Homo sapiens: one gene and its partners. The protein of the gene in region 3 interacts with the protein of the main gene of each other region in a pairwise test. Each region holds a gene or a part of one and is shown on either strand. Other genes may lie near its edges.

The links. The genes of interacting proteins can lie anywhere in the genome.
Region 1: the proteins of MEP1B (region 3) and CYSTM1 interact in a protein complementation assay, tested with the Homo sapiens proteins (one study listed by IntAct).
Region 2: the proteins of MEP1B (region 3) and ARL14 interact in a protein complementation assay, tested with the Homo sapiens proteins (one study listed by IntAct).
Region 4: the proteins of MEP1B (region 3) and APOC3 interact in a protein complementation assay, tested with the Homo sapiens proteins (one study listed by IntAct).

The regions. Positions count from the first base shown.
Region 1 is NC_000005.10:140,178,188-140,181,687, reverse strand, and holds part of CYSTM1 (cysteine-rich and transmembrane domain-containing protein 1), read right to left. Parts: intron 1-3,500.
Region 2 is NC_000003.12:160,675,982-160,678,948, forward strand, and holds ARL14 (ADP-ribosylation factor-like protein 14), read left to right. Parts: upstream 1-1,178; 5' UTR 1,179-1,365; coding exon 1,366-1,944; 3' UTR 1,945-2,467; downstream 2,468-2,967. UniProt on the Homo sapiens protein: GTPase that recruits MYO1E to MHC class II-containing vesicles via the effector protein ARL14EP and hence controls the movement of these vesicles along the actin cytoskeleton in dendritic cells.
Region 3 is NC_000018.10:32,207,039-32,210,538, reverse strand, and holds part of MEP1B (meprin A subunit beta isoform 1 precursor), read right to left. Parts: intron 3,288-3,500; coding exon 3,069-3,287; intron 2,421-3,068; coding exon 2,268-2,420; intron 39-2,267; coding exon 1-38. UniProt on the Homo sapiens protein: Membrane metallopeptidase that sheds many membrane-bound proteins. Exhibits a strong preference for acidic amino acids at the P1' position. Known substrates include: FGF19, VGFA, IL1B, IL18, procollagen I and III, E-cadherin, KLK7, gastrin, ADAM10, tenascin-C.
Region 4 is NC_000011.10:116,828,543-116,832,706, reverse strand, and holds the start of APOC3 (apolipoprotein C-III precursor), read right to left. Parts: upstream 2,801-4,164; 5' UTR 2,767-2,800; intron 2,138-2,766; 5' UTR 2,125-2,137; coding exon 2,070-2,124; intron 1,935-2,069; coding exon 1,811-1,934; intron 1-1,810. UniProt on the Homo sapiens protein: Component of triglyceride-rich very low density lipoproteins (VLDL) and high density lipoproteins (HDL) in plasma. Plays a multifaceted role in triglyceride homeostasis.

The sequences.
Region 1 (3,500 bases), on a different chromosome or scaffold from region 3:
TAGTGAGACCCCCATCTCTATGAAATATAAATAAAAAATTAACCAGGCACAGTGATATGTGCCTGTAGTCCTAGCTACTCAGGAGACTGAGGTGGGAAGATCTTTTGAGCCCAGGAGTTTGAGCCTGCACTGAGCTATGATCATGCCATGCACTCCAGTCTGGCAGATTGTCCCTAAAGCAAAATAATAATCAGTAAGTAAATACAATTATCCCTCATTAGTTTCTCACACAGCCACCACCAGACATTAAAGGCCACCAAAAATTAGTTCAACAAAGTTAGCAGAGCCAGAAGGGTGCAGAAACTGCGATCAAAGATTAGATTGGCTTTAGAGAGGGTGGTGTTGGGGAGGAAAGGCTGTTAGTGGGGAAGAGGCAGAAGGGCAAAGTCTGGAGTGTCCAGGAAGCTAGTGGCAGCAGGAAAGCACTAAGTATTCGACTTAACAATAAGGGCTCACAGAATAGCCACATTCTTACAAATGTCCCCCTCTTCACACACTTTCTCCCCAACTGACTCTGCCTAAGATTCTGAAACTGAAAGCTGACCAGTAAAGTACTGCGTGCAGCATTAAACGTTTAACGTGGCAGAAGTCTAGCACCATTTCCCAGGTCTTCCTCTCCCCAAATGTCTTTGTAGTTCAACTGTTTCCCATCCCTACTTTTCTCTGAATAAGAAGCATGCCTAGATAGTTTTCAGTTACGATGTTTTCTGAGCCAATGCTCTTGAGACTGGCTAATGATTCTTTAGTACAAATAATCAGGAAACTAGTGATAGGAACCTCTGAATAAGGCATTTACTCTTCAGTGAGTAAATTCAGGTAGATCAAACCCTCCTCCCACCATGACCATCAATATTCTCCCTTAAACCATTTAATGAAAAGAGTTTAGAAAAATATAAATCATCTGTTGTTTTGGCAAAGTCATACCACAAGCTTGCTGCCCACAGAGACTGGATTCAAACCATTTGTCTCCTTTGCTTTAGATGTGAGGACCTACCCAGTTTCCAAGATCTGACTTGGAGGCCTAAATCAATAATAATATTCCACATACATCTCCTAAAAGCTATAAAGGAATCATTCCAAGCTCACTTCCTTTTGAAGACTCCTTTGTGTAGTGCCCAAAATGGTGTGAACATTTTTGGTTGTAAAGTGGGAGGGTCAGTTTATGTTCAATTCCCTTGCTTTATACTACTGCTGTTTAATTGCTGACTCCCATTTTATAGCCAAGCCAATTAGTAGCCTTGGCCAAGCGTGAGGAGCTTGGAAGCCTGAAACATGGCACTCAGCTAAGCCTACAGATAACAGAAAGCCTTTTCTGTCAGAATTTCCCTCATGAGAGAGAGCTTGACCTGGCCAACAAATGTCAGAAGTCTAAAAGATGGATGTTGTAGTTCAGTACGTAGTGTCCCTGGGCACATCAGCAAGCACTCGAATCCTACTAGATTGAGTGACAGGACTGGTGGCCTGACACAGGTGAGGGAAATTTTAAAAGATGACTATTTCACTCCTCATCCAATTTACTGAACAATCTTACTCCCTTTTGTCTCTGACCAGCTTAATAACTTACTCCTTTGAGGGCTGTGACACTTTCTGATAATACTCTTGCTGTTAAAAAAGATGCTGGGTCATAGGCTGCCAGTTCCACAGCCTTCTGTTACTGGTTTACTCCAGGCACTCCAAAAAAAGCCAAGACCAGGTTAACAGAGAATAAAAGAAAAAAGAGAGTGAGGCTGGGCGCGGTGACTCACGTCTGTAATCCCAGCACTTTGGGAGGCTGAGGCGGGTGGATCACCTGAGGTCAGGAGTTCGAGACCAGCCTGGCCAACGTGGTGAAACCCCGTCTCTACTAAAAAATACAAAAAATTAGCCAGGCATGGTAGTGCATGCCTGTAGTCCCAGCTACTCGGGAGGCTGAGGCAGGAGAATCGTTTGAACCTGGGAGGCAGAGGTTGCAGTGAGCTGAGATCGTGCCATTGCACTCCGGCCTGGGAGACAGAGCAAGACTCTGTCTCAAAAGAAAAGAAAAGAAAGAAAAAAAAGAGAGTGAACAATCTGAGCTTTACTATTTATATATGAAATATAAACAGGAATTTAGTTAGCCTCAGGCTTCCAAATTTTTATTTTTATTTTTCAGACAGAGTCTTCCTCTGTCTCCCAGGCTGGAGTGCAGTGGCACAATCTTGGCTCATTGCAACCTCCGCCTCCTGGGTTCAAGCAATTCTTGTGCCTCAGCCTCCCGACTTAGCTGGGATTACAGGCGTATGCCACCATGCTCAGCTAGTTTTTGTAATTTTAGTAGAGACAGGGTTTCGCCATGTTGGCCAGGCTGGTCTCGAACTCCTGGCCTCAAGCAATCCACCCACCTCGGCCTCCCAAAGTGCTGAGATTACAGGTGTGGGCCACCGTGCCCAGCCATTTTTTTTTTTTTTAAGCGACAAGATGTCATTCTGTCTTCCAGGCTGGAGTGCGGTGGCGTGATCATGGTTCATTGCAGCCTCAAACTCCTGGGCTCCAGCGATCCTCCCACCTCAGCCTCCTGAGTAGCTAGGATTACAGGCACATACCACATGCCCAGCTAATTTTTAAAAATTTTTTGTAGCTATGGGGTCTCCCTGTGTTGCTCAGGCTGGTCTTGAACTCCTGGGCTCAAGCGATCCTCTTGCCTCAGCCTCCCAAAGTGCTAGGATTACCGCACCGGGCCTCAGATCTTGATTACAGGCTGATTAGTAACCAAGCCCATAAAACCCCAGGAAAAAACAAAGCCAAACAAAACAAAAAACCAGCAAAAAGTCCAGGCATGGTAGCTCATGCCTGTAATCCCAGCACTTTGGGAGGCTGAGGCAGGCAGATTGCTTGAGCCTAGGAGTTTGAGGGGAGCCTGGGCAACATGTCAAAACTCCATCTCCACAAAAAACACAAAAAATTAGCTAGGTGTGGTGGTGCAGGCCTGTAGTCCCAGCTACTCAGGAGACTGAGTCGGGAGGATGGCTTGAGCCCAGGAGGTGGAGGTTGCAGTGAGCTGCGATTACACCACTGCACTCCAGCCCAGGCAACAGAGCCAGAACCTGTCTCAAAAAAATTAAAAAAACCAAATCAGCAAAAAGGTCTTAGATAGCCAGGCATGGTCGCCTGTAGTCCCAGCTACTCACAGGGTTGAGGTGGGAGGATCACTTGAACCCAGGAGTTAGAGACCAACCTGGGCAACATAGCAAGCCCTGTTTCTGAAAAAAAAAAAAAAAAAAAAAAAAAGGAAGGACTTGAATAGGGCTTTTCCAAAAACTTAGAACTTCAAACTCTTTTAAAAAACTTTTATCACATCTCAAAATATACCATTCATCCAAGAATTAAAATATTCTGCTTTGGAGGAGCTCAAATTTCATATAAGCCTCTCATTAATTCTCCTTGGTACCTCTGTGAGGAGGTACTGACCCGCATTCAAGGTCAAAGAAAGTTTCCATGCCAAGAAAGGAGTGCCCTGCTCAAGGCCTTAGTTGACAAATGTG
Region 2 (2,967 bases), on a different chromosome or scaffold from region 3:
TTCTGTCTGCCATACCTGTCACCTCTTGTCTATCTCCTCTGCATCAGCACTCCAAGCCTTGGCTTTATCCTGCTATATCAGTTATCACTCATTTTTCCATCTAGTTTCCATTTTCCAGAATTTTGTTAAAATTTCTGACCCTTTGATGAATTATCTTGCTGTTTTGTTATGGATTTATATGTTTTTTTTGTTTTTTTTTTTTTGAGACGGAGTGTCTCACTGTCACCAGGCTGGAGTGCAGTGGTGCGATCTCGGCTCACTGCAACCTCCGACTCCCTGGTTCAAGCGATTCTCCTGTCTCAGCCTCCCAAGTAGCTGAGATTATAGGCACGGGCCACCACGCCCAGCTAATTTTTTTGTATTTTTAGTAGAGATGGGGTTTTACCATGTTGACCAGGCTGGTCTTGATCTCCTGGCCTCATGATCCACCCACCTCGGCCTCCCAAAGTGTTGGGATTACAGGCGTGAGCCACCATGCCTGGCCTATATGTTCTTTTAATGCCTTTACCATTATTCTGTGGAGTCTTGGGAAGGAGAGGAAATAAATGCATGTTTTTATTTGCCATCTTTAATTGGACTGCTTAATGTAAAACTGTTCGTGTTATAAATTCCCCCTCATATATTTGGTTTTGTGACTGCAGTAGTGTAAATTCTCTGCCTAGAATTTTAAAGAAAGTGATTCTGTATGTGATTAGGGAGTAAGGTTCAGATAACCTTGAGTGGTTTAAAGTTTCCTACTGAGTAATCTGAACAAGGCGGATTTAAGATACTGCAGACAGAGTGTGAGAATAACTCTCTCTTCACAACTTAAGAAGCCTGGTTCCTTATTTACAACTGGGATAAGATAAATGGTTGAATACCTAGAGAAGTTCCACAAAAAGTTACACAAAAAGTTTAGTTAAATTTAAGTTAAAAGTTAGTTAAAATGAAAAGTTAAGTTTTTATTCTGCTACTAAACCATGCTCCTCTGCGTGTCTGAACCTTCAGGTTCCTCTAGATTTCTAGCACCTGAAAGAAAACAAAACTGCAGCATCAGCCAGGTAGGCCTCTCCTAATCTTACTCATTCACAGAGAATTTCCCCTTTGAGTCACCATGGCATTGGCTGGTTACTCATACCACAGATCCCTCAGGATTGGCTGGGACTGCAAATAAAATACTGTTTGCCCATAATCAAGTTGATAAGCTACAACATAAACACATCTAGGTTCTTGTTCTTAGAATACAGCATGAAGAATTTGCTTTCTTCTTTCTTCCTAACATTTTCATGTGAGATCCAGAAAGGACACATTGTCTCTGGCCATTCGAAGAAAGAAAGAAAGAAAAAAAAAAAAGGTATTTAGAGACAGAGAGAGAAAAAGGCTGAAATGGGTTCGCTGGGTTCTAAAAATCCGCAAACCAAACAAGCCCAAGTTCTTCTTTTGGGACTTGACTCAGCTGGGAAGTCTACTCTCCTTTATAAATTAAAGCTTGCTAAGGATATTACCACCATCCCTACAATAGGTTTCAATGTGGAAATGATCGAGTTGGAAAGGAATCTTTCACTCACAGTCTGGGATGTTGGAGGACAGGAAAAAATGAGAACTGTTTGGGGCTGTTACTGTGAGAACACCGATGGGCTGGTGTATGTTGTGGACAGTACAGACAAACAGCGACTGGAAGAGTCTCAGAGACAGTTTGAGCACATTTTGAAGAATGAACACATTAAAAATGTGCCTGTTGTTCTATTAGCCAACAAACAAGACATGCCTGGAGCTCTGACTGCTGAGGACATCACCAGAATGTTCAAAGTGAAGAAGCTTTGCAGTGACCGGAACTGGTATGTGCAACCCTGCTGTGCCCTCACAGGGGAGGGGCTGGCCCAGGGGTTCAGGAAATTAACTGGATTTGTGAAGAGCCACATGAAATCAAGAGGAGACACTTTGGCGTTCTTCAAGCAGAACTGAGGCTGCGAAAAATCCAAGTCTCTACAGAGACACTGATGAAGTTGAAAGGGTAATTGTTTTTCCATGCCAAATGAGGAAATCAAATTAATGAGTTGACAAACTTTTCCTGAGATGTTATTTCATCTACATTTAGTTAAACAACTTAGAATGATATCTAGAAAATATTTATTTTCAGCCAGGAACTTTAGCAAACTGTGGCAATGATCACTGGGAATGAAAACGTATAATGTTCTACAATTTTTGTTATCACATTGGATGACTTTGAATATAGTAGTGACACTTGGGACCAAATAAATTATTTTATATGACTACTAGAACAAAGTTTTAGTAAGCTGTCTGCTAATAGAGTCAGAATTCTTCCAGATTGTTTCCAGCTGTAACAGGTATTGAATTTCCACCGTGCTCCTATGTAACAGCTGGGTGGTGTAAAAAATGAACTTCAAATTATGGAGTGGAAAAAGCGTAATGTTAATATCTTGTAAATTCGTATTCCCTATTAAATAAAGCTTTCTTATTCCCTAAATAAAGCTGTTCTTCTGGATTCCTGCCAGCTTTTTGAAATCTATTGCTGGGAACTTCCTCCAATGAATCTTAAACAATGAACTTCAGGCTGCTAATTGCTCAGAGCCTGTGTTCTGCCATAGGGAGCAGAAGTGTATAAACTTAAAGGTCTGGTGATCGGGGTAGCACCTTGGAGTTTAGGGCAAGATCTGGGCTCAGGGCTTAGCTCTAGGCTACAGCCCCGAGTCTTGCTTCCTTGGAATTCAGCTTAACAGCCATTGCTTGGAAACATATGTGCAGCTCATTGTACTGATCAAACAGGAACCAGACCTAGACTTTGCTCTCAGAGACCTACAATTCACAGCAGGAAACAACATAAAGCTAGTAGCTAGAGTAGGGCAATAAGTGCTAAGTGCGATTGCAGGAGATACTCTTTTTAACCAGGGAAACAAGAAATGTTTCATGCAGGAGATGGTATTTTAGAGGGTCCCTCACTCCCAGTGACCCTACAAAGGTACAGGT
Region 3 (3,500 bases):
TACAGAGCTGCTATCGAAATGCATGAAGAAACCAGAACCTGTTAAAGAAAAGCAGAATTGAGAGAAAAACAGATACTGGGTATAGGAATGTGTGTTTGTTAATGGTGGTGCTAGATTCTTTACGCGAGGCATAAGTAACATCCATATATAAATCGCCAGGGAGAAATGACAGAAGCCTAAGCTACATATCTGGCACTTGCAAAAGCTAGCAGATTGACATAACAGTATAAAACTCAAACCTCTCTATTATTTATAAAACGTTTACTTACAATAGTAGTTTTCCGTGGGCACTAATCCTTGCTTATCTTCATTTGTTATGAGCTATAAAGATAAAGCAAGTTTAAGTATCAAATGCTAACTTTTTAAAAATCCACTGTAAGGCTGCAGGTCAAGCCCAAACAGCAGGGCTAAAAGGTAGATTCTACATGGGACACCTTTCAAGTGTCCAAAACCCTGGTCCAGCTCCAAGTGGAAAGAGCTACCATTGGACAAAGATGCTACAGAGGGTTGTTCCCCCGCTGAGAATATGAAAAAGGAAAATGGAAATTAAGTCAAAACGAGGGTTTGAAACTTGGGTGGGTAGAGAGTTGTAGCATCTGTGTCTCCCAAGGGTAATTCAACGTGAACTTCTAGGTCTTTCTGGAAAGGTGAACACACACTGCGGACAGAGGTGAGAGTCCAGCCAGGAAACCAGGGCCTTGGCTGACCTGCCCGCCCCCCTTTTTTTTTTAAACACTTTCTAACTTCTTTGGCTTCAAACTGTCACAAAAAAAGAAGGAAGAAAAAAAGAAAAGGAAGAAAGAAATTCAACTTTCAGAAGATATTGTTAACTACAGCAACCATCTGGGGAGATTCACATTTTAATATTTTTAAAATGATACTTGTAATGAAAAAATTGAGAATAACTGAACCTGATAATTTCAGAGGCACCTCCCACTTATCTGCTTTCATTATCTGCAATACTTAACCTTCTAAGCCATCTCTAAAGAAGGCACAGCTAGTAATTCTGGTTTGAGTGTATATATATTTTCTTTCATTTTTTTTTTTTTTTTGAGACAACGTCTTACTCTGTTGTCCAGGCTGATACGCAATGGTATGATCTCAGCTCACTACAACCTCTGCCCCCCGGGTTCAAGTGATTCTCCTGCCTCAGTCACCCAACTAGCTGGGACTACAGACATGCACCACCACACCCAGCTAATTTTTGCATTTTTAGTAGAGACAGGGTTTCACCATGTTGGCCCAGCTGGTCTCAAACTCCCAACCTCAGGTAATCCGCCCACCTTGGCCTCCCAAAGGCCGGGGATTACAGGCATGAGCCACTGCACCCGGCCCAATTTTCTTTACCTTATTTCAAGTATTCGCTTAGTTTCCACTATATGCAGGGAATTGTGTTGGGCATTTAAATATGGTTCTAGGAGCAGGCGATTTATGAAAGAGACAACATTAGGGAACCTTTCCCTTACCACAGAAATTAGTTTTCAAAAACAGAAAAAAGTGAGAGCTACCTGGTCTGGATTCTTCTTCTTTTCCCCCTCCCTCCCTATCTACTTTCCTCTGGTCTGAGTAGGACCACTATCCACTATCCAAATATGCATTTAAAAAGAAAAATAAAAGGAAAAGCACCTTTTTGCCATTAGAGGCCTCCAATTCCTGCCTAGATCATCTGAGCTATTAAGCACTGGCCCTAAGTTCTGAAGTCTAGTTTTACATATTTGATGCCAGAATAAGCAAATACGTAAAAATTTGGTCCTTGTAGCCAAATAACTACTTAAGGCAAAACAAAATGAAAATGGAAAAGGATACGCATCTGAAGAAAATTAAATAAACTCTGCTTTTTAGATATTTTTGTAACAGGAGCATATAATCACATCCAGCTACAGTTCTGAAACAATAATTCGCAGCCTAGTGCTGTCCATTGGAAAGAGTCTCTTGTATTCTGCAAACTTCTAGGAAACAATAGTACTGCCCCTGAGATAAGAGGCCTTGCAGGAGGCCCAGTCTGGTACACTCTCCTATGGGAACGCACTGGTAGAGGCATCACAGAGCCCAGCTCTGACTTGTAGAAAGAAAAATAAACTCAGGAAGGAAAAGCAAAGAAATTAACAATGTCTTTATCAGGTGCAAGGCCTACTTCTCAGTAGTAACCTAATGAATAATCATTAATAATTCTGATAGAAATTAGAGATAAAATCCCATTCTTTCATAGAGAAGTATGTGGCTGTAGCCACTGAGTATACAGTCTAGGAATATCTCACTCCTGTTACCTTGGCACTGGCCCATGTTGGAGTGATCACTCTCTGGCCCCCTGGGAACCTGTGAAACCCGTTGCCAGTCAGCATTATCTCCTGAACTTTGGATCATGCCACACACATTTTCCAGTTCAAAACTGCACGAGTCCATAAAACTCAAGGAAGAGGCTACAAAAAGCAAAAAACAATTATTGACACTCATACAACATGATAATCTAAGTAACAAAAACTGAACTTATCACAGTATTAGAAATGCCAGGTTGGTATTACAGGGAACACCTAGCTGATTCTGGATGATGGTGGCTTAAAGATCCCTCTTTATTTGCAGAACCCCTACAAAGAAGGTAATGAATTCTGTAGATCTGAATAAGCTCCCTGCCTGAAGTCTTTTTTAAAAAAAATTTTCTAATTTGTAGAAACCTGAGTCTATACTCCCCTAGTTATTCGAATCATTAAGCCACAATCCAGATTATTTGATCCCATTCATATTACAACTAGACATATCATTTTGGCTAAAAGGAAGTGTGAGTATCAATCTGACCGAGGTTTGAATTAGTAACAGCTTTAAAAACTTGCCTGAGGCATATTCCTACAGGACCCAATTTGTTTTTAGATCTCAACACCAGACGTGGTGAAAAGAAAAATGCTGCTTCCAAGTTGTAGATTGAGATCTGAGTGCTATTCTGTTTATTTCCTGAATATCAAATCTCTATAATCGCAGAAACCCCACCAATGCTTGACAAAATGGCACAGACCATCATTTTTTCCTACATAACAGCGGAAAATATAAGTCATTTCAAAGAACCTGTCACATACAGCAGTTATACAGTTGATTCAACTTTAGGAGATCAGAGTCACTGAAATCCATTCGTTGGCCGATCACATCCTCAAAGTCTGAGATTCTTGTGACAATTGTCGGCTCTGTTCCATTTTGGAATGCAGTTTTACTGTAGTGCATTACTGAAGTGTAATCATAGGGAACATTCAGGGAATCTGATATATCGTCACTATAGGTGTTAAAATTGTGCTCTCTGCCTAAAGGATAAATAAAAAATCTTTACTTGATGTTCACAAAATTCAGCTTATCTTACTCCAAATACTGCTCACTTAGAAATGGAGAATATAATAAACTCAAGCAATTTTTGCTACAACTAACAACAGTTTCATTATTCCCATCTTACAATATAATATTCAAGCTTAGAACTGTGATACCAGCAGTCACACTGAACATATCTAAGGTTCTATTGC
Region 4 (4,164 bases), on a different chromosome or scaffold from region 3:
ATGGGACCCACACCCATGTCCCCACTGGACGACACCAGTCAGGACCACACCACCCTCTCAACTTCACTGGACGACAGCCCTGAGACCTCAGGCAGGAATCCCCCACAGCTGCCACCCTGGGAGAAGAGATATCCTTGCAGGAACCCCAGCACAAGTCAAACCCTGCCATCTCCAGGTCACCTCAGATGTTTATGCCCCTGGGCCTGAGGCACAAAGTGACAGGGTGGGGAGATGTGAAAGGTCAAGGCTGTCATTGTTTTCTGTGCAAACAGCACCGCCTGGAGTTGCACAACCTGGTGGCTCTGAGCAGGGTAGGACAGAGGGAGGCAGCCTCTCATTTGGAAAGTCATTGGAGGATTGATTAGTTGTGTGATCTGGGGCAGGTCACCTAATCGCTCTGAGCCTCAATTTTCTCATCTGCAAAGTGAGAAAATAACACCTACCCCAAAGCCGGTTCTGGGGACTAAGAATGTTTATGAACACCTCTGCTATGCCAGCTAATGCCAGTCAGGGTGAGGTGGAGAAGGGAGTAGGGGAGAGGAGAGTACTGATGGGCAGGGGCAGGATGGGAGAGGAAGGACACACTTCTGCTCACACTGGCCCCAGGTCTTAGAACAAAGCAGAAGCACTCACGGGCTTGAATTGGGTCAGGTGGGGCCTCCCAAGGCAAACCCCTAGCCCAGGGGTCCCCAACCCCCAAGTCATAGATAGGTACTGGTCCATGGACTGTTAGGAGCCGGGCTGCACAGCACGAAGTGAGTGGTGGGTGAGTGAGCAATACCGCCTGAGCTCCGCCTCCTGTCAGATCAAGTGGCCTTACATTCTCATAGGAGTGTGAACCCTATTGTGAACTGCACATGCCAGGGATCTAGGTGGAGGGCTCCTTATGAGAATCTAATGCCTGATGATCTGAGGTGGAACAGCTTCATCCCAAAACCATCCCCGCTGGCCCATGGAAAAATTGTCCACCACAAAACTGGTCCCTGGTGCCAAAAAGGCTGAGGACCACTGCTCTAGCCAGACCTTCAGAAAAGGAAAATGGGGCCAGGCGCAGTGGCTCATGCCTGTAATCCCAGCACTTTGGGAGGCCGAGGCAGGAGGATCCCCTGAGGTCAGGAATTCAAGACCAACCTGGCCAACATGGTGAAACCCCATCTCTGCTAAAAATACAAAAATTAGCTGGGTGTGGTGGCGCGTGCCTGTAATCCCAGCTACTTGGGAGGCTGAGGCAGGAGAATGGGTTGAACCCGGGAGACGGAGGTTGCAGTGAGCCGAGATGGCACCACTGCACTCCAGCCTAGGTGACAGAGGGAGACTCCATTAAAAAAAAAAGAAGAAGAAAGAAAGAGAGAAAGGAAGAGAGGGAAAGAAAGAAAAAGGAAAGAAAGAAAGAAAGAGAAAGAAAGGAAAGAAAGAAAGAAAGGAAAGAAAGAAAGGAAAGAAAGAAAGGAAAGAAAGAAAGAAAGAAAGAAAGAAAGAAAGAAAGAAAGAAAGAAAGAAAGAAAGAAAGAAAGAAATAGAAAGAGAAAGAAAGGGAAAGGAAAGGAAAATGGAAATGAGGGCTAAAACGGCACGCCCTAGGACTGCTCCGGGGAGAAAGGAGGGACCTGGGAGGAATGCAGTCTCAACTCTGTCATCTCTCCCGCAGCAGCCTGACAAAGGCCCTGTGAGGAAAGAGGAGGCTGAAGAGGCACAGGCCCAGGGGAGGCTGGAGCACCTCCATTCCATTGTTGGGATCTCACCAGGGCAGGGGCGGGTGGGAATGGAGGCAGCTGGCAGGGGGGATGGGGAGGGAGGCCAGCGGGTGTACCTGGCCTGCTGGGCCACCTGGGACTCCTGCACGCTGCTCAGTGCATCCTTGGCGGTCTTGGTGGCGTGCTTCATGTAACCCTGCATGAAGCTGAGAAGGGAGGCATCCTCGGCCTCTGAAGCTCCTGAGGAAAGAGCAGGGCTGAGTGGGGTGGATCGGCCTCTGGACGAGCCCTGGGCTCCTGCTTGACCACCCATTGGGACTGGGATCCCCAAGTTGCCTCCACCCTGCCCCCAGCCCAGTCCCACCAAGTGCTTACGGGCAGAGGCCAGGAGCGCCAGGAGGGCAACAACAAGGAGTACCCGGGGCTGCATGGCACCTCTGTTCCTGCAAGGAAGTGTCCTGTGAGGGGCACCCCAGGTCCCCATGCCTCTGGACCCCTCCCTGGGGAGGTGGCGTGGCCCCTAAGGTAGAACCTTAGCTGGGTCTGCCAGAAGGAGTAGGGGCCGGCTCCCTGCTAATACGGGCTCTCAGAAGGGGGACTGGTGAGGGGCGAGGGATCGAGGCCCAAAGGGAGGTGGGTGGGATGGAGCAGAAAACCCACCAGACTGAACATCAAGGCACCTGCGGTCTGGACTGATCTCCGTCCAGTCCAGCCAACATGCTGTGTGTCTTTGGGTGATTTCTGGCCCTCTCCAGGCCTCAGTTTCCCTGTCTGGGGTAGGACTGGGCTGTCTAAGGCTTCCTCCAGCCCTAAGCCTGAAGAATGAGGGGGGAACCTGCACTTGGAGCCACTTCCAGCCCCACCCCCTGTGTAGCTTTGGGCAAGTGACACCCCTCCCGGGCCTCCATGTTCTTCAGGTTATGATGAGGGGTGGGGGGCACCCGTCCAGCTCCGAGGCTTCCTTAGCTCTAGCAAGTGCTTCTCCAGGCTTGCTGGCTGGGCTGGGCAGGGAGCTCCTCTTGCCCCTCTTCATCCTCCTCCCCTCCTCTTTCCCCTCCCCAGAGGGCATTACCTGGAGCAGCTGCCTCTAGGGATGAACTGAGCAGACAGGCAGGAGGGTTCTGACCTGTTTTATATCATCTCCAGGGCAGCAGGCACTGAGGACCCAGGGCGCTGGGCAAAGGTCACCTGCTGACCAGTGGAGATGAGGGCCTGAGGCAGGGTGTCCAGATGCAGCAAGCGGGCGGGAGAGTTGGGAAATCCCTAGGAGACTGAGTCCACGCTGCTGTCCCGCCAGCCCTGCAGCCCAGATGAGCTCAGGAACTGGGGGTGGGCCTGGGGAGCCCTCATTCCTTCCTAGCTGACTGGCTCCCCAGGGAGAGGCTGGTGAGAGGGGAAATGGCTTGGACATAGGCCAGGGGCCTCGGGCCCATCTCAGCCTTTCACACTGGAATTTCAGGCCCCTCCCTCCACCAGCCCCAAGCCCTGAACACAGCCTGGAGTAGAGGGGTGAGGGGCTTCTTCAGACTTGAGAACAAGTGGGTGGCTTGGGCTGGGGGGTGTTTGGAGTAAAGGCACAGAAGACCAGGCATCAGTGGCTCCGGCAAGGCCTGGTTACAGGGCTGAGCTCTCACAGCCCCTCCCAGCACCTCCATCTCTGGGTTTCAATCCAGGCAGGCGAGTGCTGCTCACCCAGCAGCCCCCCACCCGCCCCCACCCTGTGTGCCCCCCGCTGCCTCCCCCTTAGTGTAGGGCAGGGGTTGGTGGAGAAGGGCCAAGGCCGCTCAGAGCCCGAGGCCTTTGCCCCTCCCTCCACCAGGCTCCCTATTTTGCCCTCTGGACCCACTGATAACATCCCCTGGGGGAGGAGCTGGTCTCATGTCTGGGGCCCTCCCCAGCCCCCACCAGGACTGATTCTCTCGTTCACCTTCCTGGGTTCCTCAGTGGGGCTGGGGGAAGAGCAGCCCTCACTGCCCCCTGGCTGTGGGAGCAACTGGGAGGAACAAGGTCTGGTGAGGAGAGGGCACAGAGGAGTTCTGCGGGGAGTCGGTGGTCCAGGAGGGGCCGCTGACCCTTCTCGGGGCTGAGATGTCCCCTGGGCCCACAGTGAAGCCGCAGCAGGGATGGCAGGATGAGGGCGCCTGTCTTCCAGATGCTGACACCTTGGAGCCAGGACATCTTAGGCTTAAATGATGCCTTTGGCACGTAATAGGACCCAGGTCACAGAGATAACATCTCAGAGCCTCAATTTTCTGAGGATAAAATGGGGCTGGAATACTGATTGCCCAGAGTGGTGCTGAAAAGGAAATGAGATAGAGAAGTACAAAGCAGCGGGTCCATGGAGGGACTCACACCTCCCTCTCCCTCCTAACGCTGTGCCCTTCCCAGACAGCAGAGTCTGCAGGCAGAAGGAGCCTCTAACATAAAAAATAGAGCTCTGGCAGCAAGCTGTCCTCTCAGAAGTAACTAA